Regions from separate parts of the Homo sapiens genome. Here region 2 is linked to region 1. The links come from fine-mapping of genetic effects on gene expression. Tissue or cell type: whole blood. Region 1 holds a variant in brackets; the other region holds the start of a gene. All regions are shown on one strand. Distances are between the middles of the regions.

Region 1 (8,099 bases):
CTTTACAAGGTATCCCTGGGGCTTACCTATGCACCATTGAGGGAATTCTGGAAACCTCACCAATCCCTATTGTCTCCCAGGTCTGAGGCCCAGATGAGTGAATGGCCTTTTTATCACTTAGGCTGGCCCTTGCCTTCTTATTTTACTTCTTGTCAGCTTCATGTGTTTGGCCATTTTTGTTCCTGTCTACCCCTTCCTGCAGATACTTCAATTTGTTATAACAAACTCAAGTCAAAATTCCTTGACCTGGTATTTGTGTCCCTTCAGACTCCCTTCACACATGGTTCCCCTCCATATCCCAGTCAACTCCTCCCCTCCAACACTCTTCCTGCAGGTACATCACACTTGCCATGCTTCCCCAGGCTGCAGCTGGACTTTCACACTCCCATCTTTGCACACACTGCTCCTTCTTCCTGGAGCACCACTTCTCTTCCTTCTCTGGTGAACTTTTAAACTTTTTTAGAGATGGAGTCTCAGTCTGTCACCCAGGCTGGAGTGCAGTGGCACAATCATAGCTCACTGCAGCTTCCAACTCCTGGGCTCAAGCAATCTTTCTGCCTCAGCCTCCAGAGTAGGTAGGACTACAGACACGTACCACCACAGCTGGCTAATATTTTAATTTTTTTTTTTCAGAGATGGTATCTCACTGTGTTGCCTGGGCTGGTCCAGAACTTCAGGCCTCAAATAATCCTCCCTGGGGCCGAGCCTCCGGCCCTGGTGAACTTTTATTTTATTCCTCCCTCCAACCCCAGCCCAGAAGCCACTGACTCTGGGGCATCCTCCTGACCCCTGCAGAAGTCAGTTACCCTCAGGTTGTCCAATGGTCCCTGTGATTCCAGAATTCTCACAATGTATCCCCTCCCTATAGTGACAGCCCCTCCAGGGTTTTGAGGAGGCCTGCTCTCGGCACCCCAAGGCTCACTGTGCTGAGGAGTCAGGCCATCGGACTGGTGGCAGTGACGGTTAGGGGAAGGAGGCGTAGTTCAGTCCTGCAGGAGCTGGCCTCTGAGACAAACACAGGTTTGTCGGAGTCAGCAAGGCTACAAGAGAGGGAGGCAGCGGGCACCTTCTGTGCCACAAGGTGAGGTTTTCTGGGTCCTGGGCAGCACGGCTGTCTGTGTCACCAGCGGACCGGGGTGAGTGGCTTCCTGTACCAGGGCAGTCAGGTGCTCTCTGCTACCCTGTGAGTATTCTAGTGAGCAGAAATCCAGAAGAAAAAAAGAGGAGCAAAACATCAGAACTCAGGGTGCTAGGCAAAAGTGTTCTTATGAGAAAAATGCGACAGATTATTTGAGACTCTGATAGCCTGGGGGTGATCCATAAACATTCCCGAACTCCTCCAATGCCCCCCAGCACTGTCATCAGACATCTTCACCCTCTGAAGCCCATGCTGCTGGAGACCCCAGGAAATGGCCTTGATACCAACCTCCCATCCCCAGCCCACACTCCCTCTTCCTGGCCTAACCATTCTCCCACCCGCAGGTGTTGCTTCCCAGACTGTGGAATCAAATCCTCTGGATGCACCCAAGAAGCAGGTACTGGGTCCCCATTTAACAGATGAGGACACGGCTCTGAGCGCTGCCCGAGGTTCCCCAGCCGACGATAACTCCAGCCCGCCGGGCCCGAAGAGCAGAGTCCTGCCTCCTCCCCACCGGCTTCAGCCTCGGGCCTCGGCTCTGCTCCTCCCTCCTACACACACCCCGGACGCGTCTGTCCAGGTCCGAAATCCAGATCCACACGTCCGTATCCCGAGGCGGGCGTGAACTATCCACCCGTGTGCACGCCAGCCGAGCGAGTGGCCGAGGGACACCCCCGTGCTTCCCAAGGCCTGGCTCCACGAGGAGCAGAACCCCAGCGGTGGGATTCTGTCGCGCAATGCTGTGTGGCTCCGACTAGGGCCCGCCCTCCAGCAAAGAGATGCTGGTGGGTGCTCTCGGTTCACCCCCGCACTCGCCCCAGGGGGGCTCGCGGGCCACCTGGAGCTCCCGCCCCTCGGTGGCCAGGGCTGCGCGTGAAAGGGGGACGTTCGGACGCGGGGGCGCGGAGCCAGCGCGCGAGCCTCGGAGCCTCCCCCAGGCTGTGGGGGAAGAGGAGGGAGGAGGGAGCAGATGGCAGCAATTACCGCTCGGACCCTCCCCCGCCGTAGCCTGGGGCCGGAAGATCGGCTCGGCAGCTCGCTCCTGCGGGAGGGGCGGCGGCCTCCCCGGCCGGGAACCGGCGGGGAGGGGGTCCGGGAGGGGCGGCTCTGGCCGCCGGGGCGCGGGCATCCCAGCTTCTAGGGGAGAGTGATGTGAGGGCCCGGTGGAGACACCTCCTTCTCCCGGGACGAGGGCTGAGAGATTCCCTTTGGAAAGGCCGAGTCTCCGGCCGCCCCCACCCCCAGAGTTGTTTCAGGCCAGGGCCGGCCGCAACCAGCTCCGGGCCTTTAGGTCCTCAAAGTTCCGAAGATTTTCAGGTCGAGCCAGTGGCCCAGGCTAGGGAGAGGGGAGCTGTACGGTTGTGCAGGTTGTGACCTATACAAGGTGGGAGGCGTGGTTGTGGGTGAGTGGGATTCCAAGCTCGGCCTTGGCAGGTGCTGACTCGTTCTGAAGGAGGGCAGGGGGCACCGTTTCTCACAAAGGTCTCGGATGAGCCAGCCTGGCCTGCCCTTGATTTAGGGCTGCTGAGGGTAGACACAGTGGGAGAGCAAATGGCTAGGGTTGGCCCCTGTGGGTCAGGGCCAGGGCTAAAGAGGACAGGGGGACTCTCCTGGCCCAGAGTAGAAACAACTGGATCATCTGGGCTCCCTGGGCCTTTCTTTCTTCTTGAATTCCTCTCCCACCCTCACCCTGAATCTTGTTCCTCTGTCTCTAACATAGTTCCTAAAACAGCCCCTGCCCCTGCCCCCACTCAACTGCCCAAGCTCCTGTTACTTCCCTGCACAATCGAAAAGACTCCTGTCCGCTCTCCCAGGGTCCCCAACAATCAGTTCACACTGCAGGCAAAGAGACCTTTAAAAATACAAATCAGGAAAACACCAGGGCATGTGATTCCTCGCTTAACAGCCACCCACAGCTTCCCTGCAAAGGAAGCCCAAACCTTTTCCCCCAGCCCCTACCTACACAGACAGACCTCTCTTCCTATCCTTCTCCCCACTGCCCAGACACTGCTTACACTGGCTGCCTTTCTGTTCATTGAACTTGATAAGCTTTCCCCCACCTCTGGCCTTGGCTTTGCTGGTGCTTTTCCTGGATCGCTCTGCCCAGATCCTTCCCAGGAACGTCACCTTCCCATCATCCCTGACCACAATAATAAAGCAGCCCCATCTGCCTGATCCAGTCTGTCACTTAACCTTATATATTTCTTCCACTGAACTCACCACATTCTGTAATTATCTTTCTTATTCACTTGGTTTGTGGTCTGTTTCACTTACCAGAATGTCAGCTTCATGAACGCGGGGACCTTGTCTTTCTTGTTCTCTAGCACAATGCCTGGTGCAAACCAAGAAGCACTCAGTACATGCTCCATACATTCCAGGAAAGGAGTCCCTGGGACCAAACTGGATGCTAGTTCATCTGGTCACCTCCGAGAGGGCTTCTCTCTGGGTGGGGCCAGCTACAAACACCTGTACTCACCTGGTACCCACCTAGATGCTTTGCACACATGGGCAGACCCATGGCTTACTATAACAATAATCTTGGCTGACAGCTAATCAGCTGACTGTGCCAGACATCATTCTAAGTCCTTTACATAGTTTAGTTTAATTTAACTCATTCCATCCTCCTGTGAAGTAGACACTAATAGCCTCAGTTTACAAGTAGATATACCACACACACAGATCCACACCACAACACACAGGCAGCATAAGCATTGAATTCATTATTACTATCCAACAGATAGATGAGTGGGGTAAAGAAATCAGGGTGAGCCTGGGACATTTAATAACTACTGTGGGAAGATGGGAAGAACACCAGGGAAAGCTCAGCATGGGGGTCAGGCACAGGGCCAGCTGGGCAAGTGGTAGAAGAGGAAGTTGAGCCTCAGCCCACGCCCATATTCTGAGTCCCCACAGCACTTGGAGTGGTGCGGAGGGTGGTTCCTGGTTCAGTTCTGCTACCCACCAGAGGGGTGATCTTGCCCACCAGAGGGCAACCGTTTACCCTCTTGAGACCACATTAGCAAAATGGTGGGGGAGGCGTACATAATACCTGTCTCCCAGGGACCCCACCAGGATCAAACTCCAAAATGCTCATGAAAGCCGTGTAGGGCTTGCTGATGAAAGGGTGCAGGTTGCCAGCCGGGAAAACTGGGGCTGGAGCTATGCTTTGGCTCTTCTGGAACCATAGCTCACTGCTGTATGACCCTCCAGAGTGGGGGGCTGGTGGAGGGGCTGGGTCTCACCAACCATTGCCCCCTCTGTACCTGGCCTGGTGCTCATCTAGAACTCCATAGGTATTTGTGGAGTGAATGCCTGCGTGAGGGAAGGACCAGGGCATAGGTAAGAGGAGGAGAATGAATACATGAGTGAGAGGCAGAGTGAATGAAGCAGGGACTGGAGACGCCCTCTGCCTCTGAGCCTCAGTTTCTTCATCTGTGAAAGCCAGTGGTGGGGCTTGGCCCACTTCTGTCTCTGGGCTCCAGTGTGAATCAGACAAGATGGGGCCACTCCATGGAAGCCCCTCCTTGCTATCTATGCAGGGCCCCCAGGGTGGACGGGGGGAGCTGAAGTGACCAGTGTTCCCCTCCCCCCATCCCTGTCCCCCGGAATTTATAGATTCCTCATTGTCCTGCACAAAGGCCTTCTTGA[G/A]GAGGGGGCGGGGTGATGGAGGAGACGGGAGAATTAGAAAGGCGGAAGCTGAGCAACAGCCAGCCACACCCAAGGCCCCATAAATCTGCCCAGGCCCCTGTAAGATGGACTCGCTTTGCCGCACTTGAAGCGGCTTGCAGGGCTCCTGCTGCTGGGATCAGCTCACCTTCCTCACAGCTCTGGATCCTCAGCAAGATGGGGGGTGGAGCTGCGGGGGGCATGAAGACAAGACCTGGTGGTCAGGGAGGGGTGACTCACCTTGCGTTATACCTCTGACCTCAGAAAGTCCTTAATCTTGTTCCTGTGCTGCCCCCTGTAATTCTAGTCCACAGCTGTTGGTTCTGAGCTGAAAAATGAGCTTTTTGTGGGTACTCTGAGTCTTTTTGTGGGAGTGGGCCTGAAGGCTCAGACTCTAAGAAAATGGCCTCCTCCCCCACGCTGGCCTCTGGGTAGTGGGTGGGAGGCTGAGGGTGGAATTGACAGATGGTGCGGTGTTTAACAGATGACGGGAAACAAAATTACTCAGCTGCCGTGTCTCTCCATCTTCCCCATGGAAGGAGATGGCCTTCGGACTGGAAACAGACAATGACCTCAATCAGGAGGCTGTCAGAGGACAGGGAAAGAGAGAAGCGACGGGGTATTAGGGGTATTAGGGCACCATGAACAGGTGTACAAAAGACCTGACTCAGAATCCCATCCCTGCCACACACCAGCTGGGTGATCTTCAGCAGATCTCACAGAGTCTCTGTTTTCTCATCTGTAAGATGGGTCAATGAAAAACCCTGCCTTATCTTCCTCACTGGCTTTTATGAAGATTATATGGATTCTGTGTTTGAAAGATGGGCTTTAAAGACTTGCGAAGGTGTAAAGATGTAAGAGGTTATCTACTGGAAACTCTAAGTGCCGGCCCACTAGTTGTTGACGGAATCATTTTAAAAACTTTTTTTTTCCTTACAACAAAACAGAATAGAGTAGAAAACATAACAGTGCTTTACAGTTTCAGGAAACGCTGCTTGTAGTTACATGTGCATTCATGTGTCCTGGGTCCAGAAGTAAATGTATTTACTGTGGATGACGGTCAAAAAAGTGAAATACTCAGAGTAGAGAATATTCTTCAGTGATATCTCCAGAAGGGAATGGTGGATGAATGGAAACTGACAACATGAAATATATCAGGCTAAACATAAATGTAAAAATTTTTGTAAACAAAAATGTACACTGGCTCTGAGCAGCTCAGTGTAACTGCGGTTGGTGGTGATGGGTGGAAGGGCTTACGTAGGACTTAACTGACTGCCCTTTTGGTGGGCAATGAAGCTCTCTCTGCTGTGTAAGACACCTTGAGCCTGATTCCTGAGAATGCTGTCCCTGAACGCCCACTAGGCAATGACCGTGGCTCCCTCACCGTGGCCCTGAGCTGTGCCAGAGGGAATGGGTTATTTAGCGAGAACCTTGAACTCATGTGCCCAGGCCTCCCCTCCAGTCCACTAGGAGTGCAGAAGGATTTGCAACAGGTATGCTGTAGTGGTGGTCAGGACACCCCTGCCTGAACTTCACCCATGACCCTTGTCCTCACCCCCACCCAAGGGGTCATAGTCCAGTGAGGGTGAGCTGGTCAGAGTGGACCCTAAATCAATCCCAGACCTTCCTGGCTGGCTCTGAGTTACAAGCTGTGGGCTTTGTGATGCAGATCATGATTCGGGAGTAGGGGGCATGACCTATGGCAGGTCACACAGGACCCCTAGAAAGGGCCAGAGCTGGGGTCAGAGGCCACCTCCTCCATTCTCTGCCCTGCTCTGCTGGGTCCCATCCTGCATCTACCTAGTCCTTCAGCTGGGCTGGGCCATTTCCCCACTGACTGCCGGCTCCAGCTGTAACTGCCACCAAGCCTGGAGGCTGGGAGGAGAGGGGCTTCTGCTGGAAAAAGATCCCAGAAGAAAAGAAAGGGATGAGATGACACAGTATTTTGTTCCCAAACCAGACTCAAAAGTTTCCTGAGTTCCTTCTCTGTAGATTTGCCCCTGCACCGCCCCCCCGCCCCCCGCCCCACCACCTTCTCTTCTGATTGAATTCCGCAAGTCAAGACTCTGGGCAAAAATCCAGCCCAAAGGATTAGATGGCTGGAGATTACGCACGGCAGTCAGAGAGCAAGTTAGGGAGCAAGCAGTGTATGTTATCAGGGCTTAAGAGAGAGCATCAGAGGGAGAGAGAGATGGAAAGAGCCAGATGGCGAGATGAGAAAGATCAAGCTGAAGAAAAGGGGATGACAGGCAGACAGAAAGAGGAGTACCAGCAGAAGACACTGAAGAGAGTGATTGAGAAATAGGAGCGGCAGGCAAAGGAACATCCTTGTGAACTCCTGTCAGACCCCAGCGGCTGAGAGGTCCAAAGGAGGTTAATCCATAAAGGGCCTTTGCTTTTAATCCTTAAGACCACCAGCCTGAGACTGCAGAAGGCCCTGGCTGAAGTGTACCTGTGTCATCCAGGAGCTATCCATTATTTTACACATTAACCAACAACTCCATGCCCCACTACCACAATCATTTCTATCAACAAAGGCATACACAGAGAGGGTCAAGACCAGGCCTGGGGAACTTGGCAGGGGCTGGGAAGGGATCCCTATTGAGTCCTCTTGAGGAGGGAGGCCTGGACAGGGCACTTCAAGACAGGGCATCAATGCAGGTAGAAGGTAGAAGAATCCTCACACTTGGCCATGTGCTGTGGCTCACACCTGTAATCACAGCACTTTGGGAGGCTGAGATGGGCGGATCACCCGAGGTCAGGAGTTCAAGACCAGCCTAGCCAACATGGTAAAACCGCGTCTCTACTAAAAATACAAAAATTAGCCAGGTTTGGTGGCACATGCCTATAGTCCCAGCTGCTCGGGAGGCTGAGACAGAAAAGAATCGCTTGAACCTTGGAGGCAGAGGTTGCCGTGAGCCAAGATGGCGTCACTGCACTCCAGCCTGGGCTACAAGAATGAAACTCTGTCTCAAAAAAAAGAAAAAAAAAATACAAAAGTAAGCCGGGTGTGGTGGCTCACATCTGTAATCCCGGGTACTCAGGTGGCTGAGGCAGGAAAATTGCTTGAACCTGGGAGGCAGAGGTTGCAGTGAGCCGAGATCGCGCCACTGCACTGCAGCCTGGGCAACGGAGCAAGACTCCTGAAAAAAAAAAATCCTCACACTTGGGGTACCCATCCAGGTTGGCTAAAGCTGATATACAGAAATAACTACAGAAATAACTCCCTTTCCTTTGAGCCAGAAACGGAACCCCACAACCCTCCTGTGCATCTGCCCTGCCAAGACCCAGACAC
Region 2 (8,090 bases), 22 kb before region 1:
TTCTGGCGGTCCTACTGCAAGTAATATGGCCATGGAGTGAGCACTGAGTGGGGAGGTCAGGAAACCCAGGCTGCAGGCATGACTCTGTCCTCAGCACATCAGAGAGGGATGGACTGGGGTGAGGGTTTCTTGACATAAGGTCCCCATGGGCTTCAGGGGATCCAAGAATCCTCTAAAGCAGAATGCAAAGTCTGGTGTCAATTAACGGAAGTGCATTTTTCTGGGGATGGCTTTCATCAGTGTCTCCAAGGGCTCTGTAAATCAAAAAAAGTTATGGATACCCAGAATGGGTAATCTTGGAGGCTCCTTCCATGCCCTAGTATTCCTGGGTTATATATGGGTTTAAACGTGAAGTACACTCCCCATCCTTCAAGGCCAATTCAGTGGCTGCTCTGGGAAGCTCTAACAGATTTCTTGCTTCTTTGACTGCAGGGAAAGGCTGGGAGCCCAACACCACAGAGCCTGGCAGGGTCCCTCTGCCCTGATCTCCCTCACCAGACAGCCAGCTCCCAAAAGGGGGCAGGACCAGCCCAAGGCTAAGGTAGCAGATGCCAGCACCCCATACTTGACCTCTTGTGGCTCACCGCCCCCCCCCCACAGTCTCTGTCCCCTGAAGGGGGTCTCAGGGCTGCAGAGCACAGGGGCACTGGGGCCTGGAGTCCACATCTCCCTGCTGCAGCCCTGGAGCTTTGCAGAGCCATGCTCCTTCCAGGAACCTGGTTTTCATTAAATCGGGTAAAGGAGTCGATAACCGCCAAGTCCAGGAGAGGCAAAGTTCTGCTAGAAGGCACAGGGAAGGTGAGGGAGACCAGCCTGTCTCTTGCCCTCCCTGGCTGACCGACGGCAGGGGGAGGGGAAGGCAGGGCTCCTAAGGGTCCAGCAATGGCAGCAGTCGGAGCTTGGGGGGAGAGTCGGGGGAGTCCTGGCCCAGATAATAAGCAATTGTTAATGTGATCCATATGGATCCTGACTGGCCTCTCTGTTTAACAGAATGATAATGGCAGGGAAAGAATGCTGGTCTGTGGGGAAGGGAAGGGGCAAAGTCCTCCCCGGACTTGGGGGGGTGGGGTAGGGTCATGGGGAGGAGAAGGAGGCAAATAAGGGAAAGGGAGAGGAGGAGCCCCACCCAGGGGTCTCCACCACCCAAGAGCACAGAGCTGTTTACCTGAAGGTGGCCAGATTCCATGCTATGCAGACTGCCTGGCTAAAGGCCCTTACAAAACCCCTTTTATTCAGCCAACCAATATTTATGGAGCACCCACAAGGTGTCAAGCCCTGTGGCAAGCCCACTGGGGGCAGGGCCAGGGAGTACATGCTCCATTTCAGTCAAAGCCCTGAGTGGACCCCGCCACAAAGGCGGAAGGGAGCACAGGTGCAGGCCACGGAGGGAGGAGCAAGTGACAGAAGCTCGGGGCTGGGGAGGTGATGCGGAGGAGGTGCGCATCCGAGTTGGGCCCTGAAGAATAAGGAGGTTGTGGAAAGACAGGGACAATGAGGAAGGCATTTGGCTGGAGGAACAGCGGGAGCAAAGGCAGAGAGGCGTGAAATTGCGTGGAGAGAGCCCTAGATCTCAGCAATAAAGCTGCGGCCCAGGCAGGGCAGGGAGGGGAGTCCTGATCCATAAAAAGCTGTGGCCATGGGTGAGCAGAAGAAAGGCAGGAAAGGGCTCTGCGACGCCACACTCAGTCTGGGTGGCTCTCCCCAGCCTTCGCCCAGGCTGGTACTGGAATTGACAGTTACGGGATCCTCAGCCCAGCCCTCAGCCATACCACGGCCAGAGAATCGGGCAGGGCCTCCGAAGCCAAACTCATTTCTGTGTCTCTCAGCCCCTTCTGTTTCTTCTTCTGGGGCGGGGGTGGGGGCAACAGGAATCCCCCCGAGGAATGCGGGTCCTCTAGGCCTCCCCAGGAGCAACTCCTCTGCCCCACACAGCCTAATTCCCTTTGGCCCAAAAGGGCTTCGCCCAGAAGATATTACAGCGAGGACACGAGGGTCGCTCCCGTCTGCCTTGGATGCCAATGGAATCAAGTGGAAAGAAATGAAATGGTGTTAAACATGGGAAAGGGGATTTACGAGGCCTGTCACCCGTCCAGCCCAGCCACCCCAGCAAGCCCCGCCCCTTTCCTCGCCCACCCCAGGAAGTCCCGCCCCGCCCCCTGCCCGCAGCTCGCGCGGCCGCCCGGTACCCGCGTCCCACAGCTGGGTGGCGGCGGCACCACAGCACCGGGCAGCCCGGCGCGCCCGTCCTTGGGGGCTCAGGCACAGCGGGGAATGGCGTCGGTTCCGGACTGAGAGGCTCGGGGAGGCTTTAGGAGGATGCTATGGGATTTCGGGGTAGGCTCCGGGAGGGTCTGGGACTCCCTCTGCAGGGTCAGAGGGTTTCGCACCGTGGCATCTGCGGGCCCAGCCCACTCCAGAGACTGGGCGGCTCCACAGGGGAGGCCCCACGGCCCAGGAACCGGGAAGCCCACCTGCGCCGTAAGCCCAGAGTTGGGCTGGAACCGGGTCCCCACTCCTCGCTGCCGGGCGGAAAGCAGGAGACCGCTCCGCCGCCACAGCCCGTGCGGACAACACAAACATTCTTCAGTCCTCTATTCTCCTCCAAATTAGGTATCCATGGAGACAGGGCCGGCAGCCTGACAGCCCTACGGCCTAATCCTGATTTAGTGACCGTCCCTTTAACAGCCCACCCACCCGTCCACCCACCCCTGCGCTCCGGGCCGCCGCTGGGCGCAGGGTCCAGGCCGCGCGCTCTCTGCCCCGCGCAGACCCCTTCCCAGGCCTCCTCCTCTGGCGGGGGCAGGGGGACCAGCGGGGCTGGGGAAGGGCACCAGCATTTGCTGATCACCTACAGGGTGCTCAGCAATCTGCGAAGGACCCTCTGCAGCGGCGGGGGGGTTGCTAGCATGCGAATCTCTGTGTAGAACAGGAGAGGGCTCTTGCGGTGGGGAAGTTTGAGGGGCCCTCTCTGGAGAGCTGGGCGCTCCGGGGGTCCCCCTTGTTGCCTGTAGCCCCAGGGTGAAGGTGAGTACAGCCTCCTACAACCCCCTGACTCTGAGACGCGGGCTCTGTTCTCCCGGGCCAGAGGAGAAGACATGAAGAGGGTGGGTGTTAGGGGCGCGGGGACCCTAAGTAGCCTCGGCCTCCTGTCACTGCCCCGTCACCATGCTGGGGAATCTCCGGGCCAGTAACCCAGCCCCCACCCCTCCCACACACACACACAGGGGCCGCTGGACAAAGACCTGACGGAGTGGGAGGGGCCTGCGGGCCGGCCCTCGGGCTCCGGACGCTGGATCCTTCTGGGACCCGAACCCGCAAACCTTGGCTCCCCACCCCCAGGCCAGCAGACGCCCCCGAGCCGGCTGCTCGCTTTCGCTGCAGCCCCCGCACCAGAGGGGGCTGCGAGACGGGTGCCCGTCGGCGGCCGGGCGGCTATCCCCTGCTCTGCCCGCCCCCTCCCCCCGAGAAGTGACCCTCGGCTCCCACGTACCCGCTAGGGTCTCTCGCCGGCCCTGCCCTCCGACCCCCGCCGAGCTGAACCCCGCGACTAGCAGCCCCCGCCCTCTCGGCCCTCTCCGGCCCCGGGCCGGCGGACAAAGCTCCGGACACCCTGACCGAACGGTCACCTCCCCCCGCCCCATCCCGGCCCGCCCGCGGCCCCGTACCTCGGCATCACGGCCGGGTCCTAGGTGAGTGTGCGCGGCCTGGGGGCGCGTCCGGCCCGGGGACCGGGGCGGCGGCGCGGGCCGGGGGCGACAGGCCTGGGCTGGGGGGCAGTGGCGCTCACCATCCTGGAGCCGCTGCTGCTGCGGCTGCTGCGGCCGCCGCGGGCGGGAGCGGGACTGGGCAGTGGGGGTGGCCGGACAAGGGGCGGCCCCGGCTCCCCCCGCAGGAAAGACCCCCACCCCCACCCCCGCCTCCCCTCGCCCGCCCCCAGGGCCCTCCCTCGCAGGCCCTCCCTCCCCTCCCCTTTCCCTGCTCCTCCCTCTCCTAGTGCCCCTCTCTTCCCCCAGCTCCCGCCCCTTCTCTGGCCCCTCCACCCCCGGCTTCTTCCCCGCCCTCCCCCACCTCGCCCCCGCCCCGCCCCCACCTCCCCTGGGCTCGCCCAGCCCCTCCTTGCCACCCTCCCGGCTGGCCCCGCCCCCTCCCGCCCCTGGCTCTAAAATAAATTAGCCACAGAGGGGAAAAAAGAGCAAGTGACCCTCGGTGTGGAGAGTGTCCTTCGCCACTCTCAGACCCGTCCGCCCCGCCTCTCCCGGCCGTCGGAGCGGGAAGCTGGGGTTGGGGTGGGGGTCGGGCCGGCGGGTAGGGGTGGGGGACGGCATGGGGACGGGGCCGAGGCCGGGACTGAGCAGCCCAGCCCGTCGAGCGTGTCCGCTGGATGTGGGCGGCTTCCTGGGTCGAAGGGCAAAGGGGAAGGCAGCCGGCCTGGGCCCGCCCCGTCCGCGGGCCGCCCCAGACCCCCTTTCCCAGGACTGCCTTGGCCCCCTGGCCCCAGTCTGGAGGACTCTTGCTCACTTCCTCCGCCCCCAGGTGAGCTGAGAACCCACTGCGCGCGGGACTCTGCTGCGCCTGCCCTCCCGGGCTGCAGAGGGCAGGACGCACCGCCAGGCAAGGCCGCGGCTCTGCGCTGATGCCACTCCGGGAGCGGGTGGCTGCGGGGGAGGAGGGCGAGCACTGGACGGGGGCAGCGGAGTGTAGGGTGTGAGATCTAAACAGAGGGCTCCACTGGAGGGCTTGCCCAGAAGGCGGCAGTCACACTGGGCCAAGCAGGATGACTGGCAGGAAGAAAAGATGAGGGATGAATCCCAGACCTCTAGTCCACTGAGAGTGTCCAAAGACATCCGTTCAATAGATACATACTGAGTGTTAACTTTGTGCCAAACATTGGACTGTGCACCAGGGATACCCAAGAGAGTCCAAGAGGCACAGCCCTGTCTTCCTGGAGCTCCCAGTCGAAGGGTAGACAGAATTCTGCCCGACACACACACACTCAAGGCTTCATCAGGGATAAAGGCCAGGAACCGGCTTTGCCCCAGGAGAAGGTAGGAGGAGGGCTGTGCTGATGATGGAGGGTCCAGAGAACCTTCCTGCTGTTGAGCCTCCAGATGTCCCAAGGCAATCCTGTTTCCACCCAAGGGCAGTGCTTAAGGGTCCTCTCTCCTGAGAGCTTGTTTCCCTTTTGAGTGGCTGCCTAGCCTGAGTGTCAGTAGGGCAAGATTGGCCCTCACCCACTAGCCTGTAGAACTCCAAACACTACCCCCTCCCTTCTTCTAATGCAGATTCCCCTGCAGGCTCTGGGGTCTGACAGGTCTGGGGCACTCCTTTAGGTGCCACTCAGGGAAACAGAAGGGGAGGGCCTCAGTAGCTCCCACTTCTTTTCCAGCCCACATTTGGAAGCAACCGGCACCCACGCAGGTTCTGGAACTTGCCAAGGTCAGTGTCTTTTCCACCTCCAGAATTATCTCTTCCTTGCCACTCCCCACCCCCAGGGCTCTGCCCTGGCACAGGAGGAGGGACGTGTCAAGGCTCAGAGTGCTAGAGTAGCCCCTGGCTTCAGAATCAGGCAGGATGAAGGGAGCCACAACCACCATGCTAGGAGACTGGAACCCTTGCTGGAGGAACAATCCCAGGATACCAGCTGGAAGGAACTCCTTGGCTATTTCCTTATTGTTGGAGCACTGGAGGCCCAGAGAGGAGAAGTGACACACTTGGGGTCACACAGCAAAGCTGGATCTAGAATCCACTGCACTTTTTCCACCCCTACCTGTCAGGTTCCCTGACAGCCAGAGACAGGAACTAAGGGAAAGACTAATATCCTTATGAGCTGGGTGCCTCAGCCAGCAGGATTAGTGCCAGGAAGCCAAGTCTGGCATTGCCAATGGGGATCCTGCTCCACCATGCTCCAGGGAAGGGGGGATGACAGGAGTGGGGTTGGACTGAGGCGCTCAGTGTGAAGGAAGGAATTGATCATGCGCTCCCCTGGAGCGGGGATCCGGTTCTCCTTCATCCTCTAGGAGTCCGGGAGTAAAGGAAGGACAAGCTTAAAGCTAAGGAAGGCCTTGCTAGTGAGATAGTGGAAGACACCAGCCTGCTGGATAAGGCCTTCGCTGGACTCCAGGGGCAAGACCAGCAGCTTGGCAGTACTGAGTTGTTTCCAATGGGCGGACTGCTGTGGGTGATATTAAGAGGTTTAGTTAGCAGGTGGGGGTGAGGTTGATCATTTCACCCCTCCACCTCCCACCCTGCACCAGTGCTCAGGGCGATGAAGTGTGGCTCCCCCTCCCAGAGCTCATTAAAGTCCTGTTAATACATCATCCAGCCTCCTGGGCTGACAAATACTCTGTTCATCACATCTCTACCTCCTGCCCTCTTGGGCAGGGCCCGAGAGACTGATCTCTGAGGACTCTGGGGTGACCTCACTCCTGGCTGTCCCCAGTCAAGGGATCTGTGCCCTGAGAGCCCCTGCTGAGGTGGCTGTGATCATCCCCAGGCAGGTCAAGTGCCTGGCAATGGATTGGATAATAATAGTGGTAATGATGGTGGTAATGTGTGGCTTCTGCAGAGGGCCCTCCATTCTTTCCCAGATCTTTTGCTAGTATCACACCCAAGGTGGAGAATCCCACCCCCATCCTGCCCCCAGGGGAGACAGGTGCTATGCTTGGTTGTGTGGCTGAGTGCAGGCACCTGCTGCGGGCGCATGCATGTGGGTGTGCAGCAGAAGTGTGGGAGTGTGTGACCTTCCTGGTCCAGAGACCTGCAACAAGGGCTTTCTAAAAACATTAAGAAGAAAAATAACTCCGTGGGTCTAGGGAGAATCAGCTCAAAGGATTTTGGAGGGAGGGGGGAGAGTTAGAGGGAGGAAGTAAAAGCTAGAGAGAGAGGGCGGGAGGAGCAAGTAGGGTGAGGAGGAAGGAAAGAAAAGGGCCCCGGGTTGGGGGAAGGATGGGGTGGGGGGAGGAAGGGAGAAAGAAATGGAAGAGAGGAAGAGGAAAGGGCGGGGAGGCCTCTTTGTGGTCCTCTGGACTGGCCACTCAGGAGTCATTATGAGCAGGAAAGGAAGGAAATGTGTCCTGGCTTGGGGATTGGGGTGCGTGCCCAGAGGGCACCACACCCAGCTGGGCTTCCCCCCAACCACACTTGCCCGGGACTCAGGCTGCTGTCCCCACAAATGGAAACTCTAGCCCTTCTCATTCTTGCTCTTTGCCCATCAAGGCCCAGTTCCCAGTGCCTCCCCAACCCTGATCAAACCACCCCAAAAACTCTTACTCTTCATGAACGTATACCAGCTTTGCCTTCCCACTGTGCTACAAGCTGTGTCTAGTCTGGATCCTATCCCCACCCCACATCCAGCCTAGGAGCCCTCGAAAGCCTGTAGGCAAACTAGAAAACATGTTCCTCCCTCTATGCAGCTCAGACTTGGGAGGAGGAGCTGGGTGGCTATCAGTCTCCGCTAACTCCTTGGGGCCCAACACTTGGGGACGCTGATACCTCGCTTCCAAAATCGTTACCCCACACATGGCCCTGCTGTTTGTTCTTTGAGCAGAAGCACATCCTGCACCATCCTGCAGCATAGCTCTTCAGCCAGCACCCCAAATTGATCCCACCATGTACCTTACAGTCACACAGAAACTCCCACTAAACATGCATACCTTTTTAATACCTCAGAATCTTTCTGCCTGGAATCTCATTTCCCTACTCTGCCTGATGAGCTCCTATTCATCCTTCAGAACCCAACTCAGGTATGCCCTTCTCTGTAAAGTCTTCCCTATCTGTCCCGCATCCTAGCAGAGCACTTCCAATCTTTTTTTTCCCCTAGGTTCCAGGGGTTGAGCCCACTCCATCCTGTCCAAAGGCAGAAGCCTCCTCCAAGTCCTGCACGATCCGCCCTCTAACATGCAAGCCCATCTGGAACCTCTGGAATCCTACTGGGCTTCTTCGCTCCCTAAAGTTTACAGACCCAGGGCAAAATAGGGAACTGCAAATCCAAGTGGCCCAGAGGTCTCTCCACCCCCACTCTGCCCTCTCTGGGCCTGAGCCTGACAGGAGATTCCCAGCACATCTGGTTGTACTTAAATCATCCAGCACTA

Evidence for each region. PIP is the estimated chance that this variant, and not a neighbour inherited with it, causes the effect.
Region 2: it holds the start of FIGNL2, and the variant in region 1 is fine-mapped to the expression of FIGNL2 in whole blood (TOPMed, PIP above 0.99). The same link has a PIP of 0.9 or more in blood mononuclear cells.

Annotation. Positions count from the first base shown.
Region 1 is chr12:51,867,247-51,875,345 of GRCh38, forward strand. No RefSeq gene overlaps it. Among named protein-coding and RNA genes, the nearest start is that of ANKRD33, 17 kb to the right of the region's middle. RefSeq lists enhancers at 1,797-2,430, 2,431-3,062. The variant G/A (reference allele first, on the strand shown) is at 4,787.
Region 2 is chr12:51,844,875-51,852,964 of GRCh38, forward strand. FIGNL2 (fidgetin like 2) reads right to left here and starts at 3,844. Exons shown (of 2, transcript NM_001384995.1): 1 at 3,666-3,844. FIGNL2-DT (FIGNL2 divergent transcript) reads left to right here and starts at 3,349. Exons shown (of 3, transcript NR_135803.1): 1 at 3,349-3,689; 2 at 5,387-5,436; 3 at 7,820-7,855. RefSeq lists enhancers at 40-750, 751-1,459, 2,170-2,878, 3,077-4,068.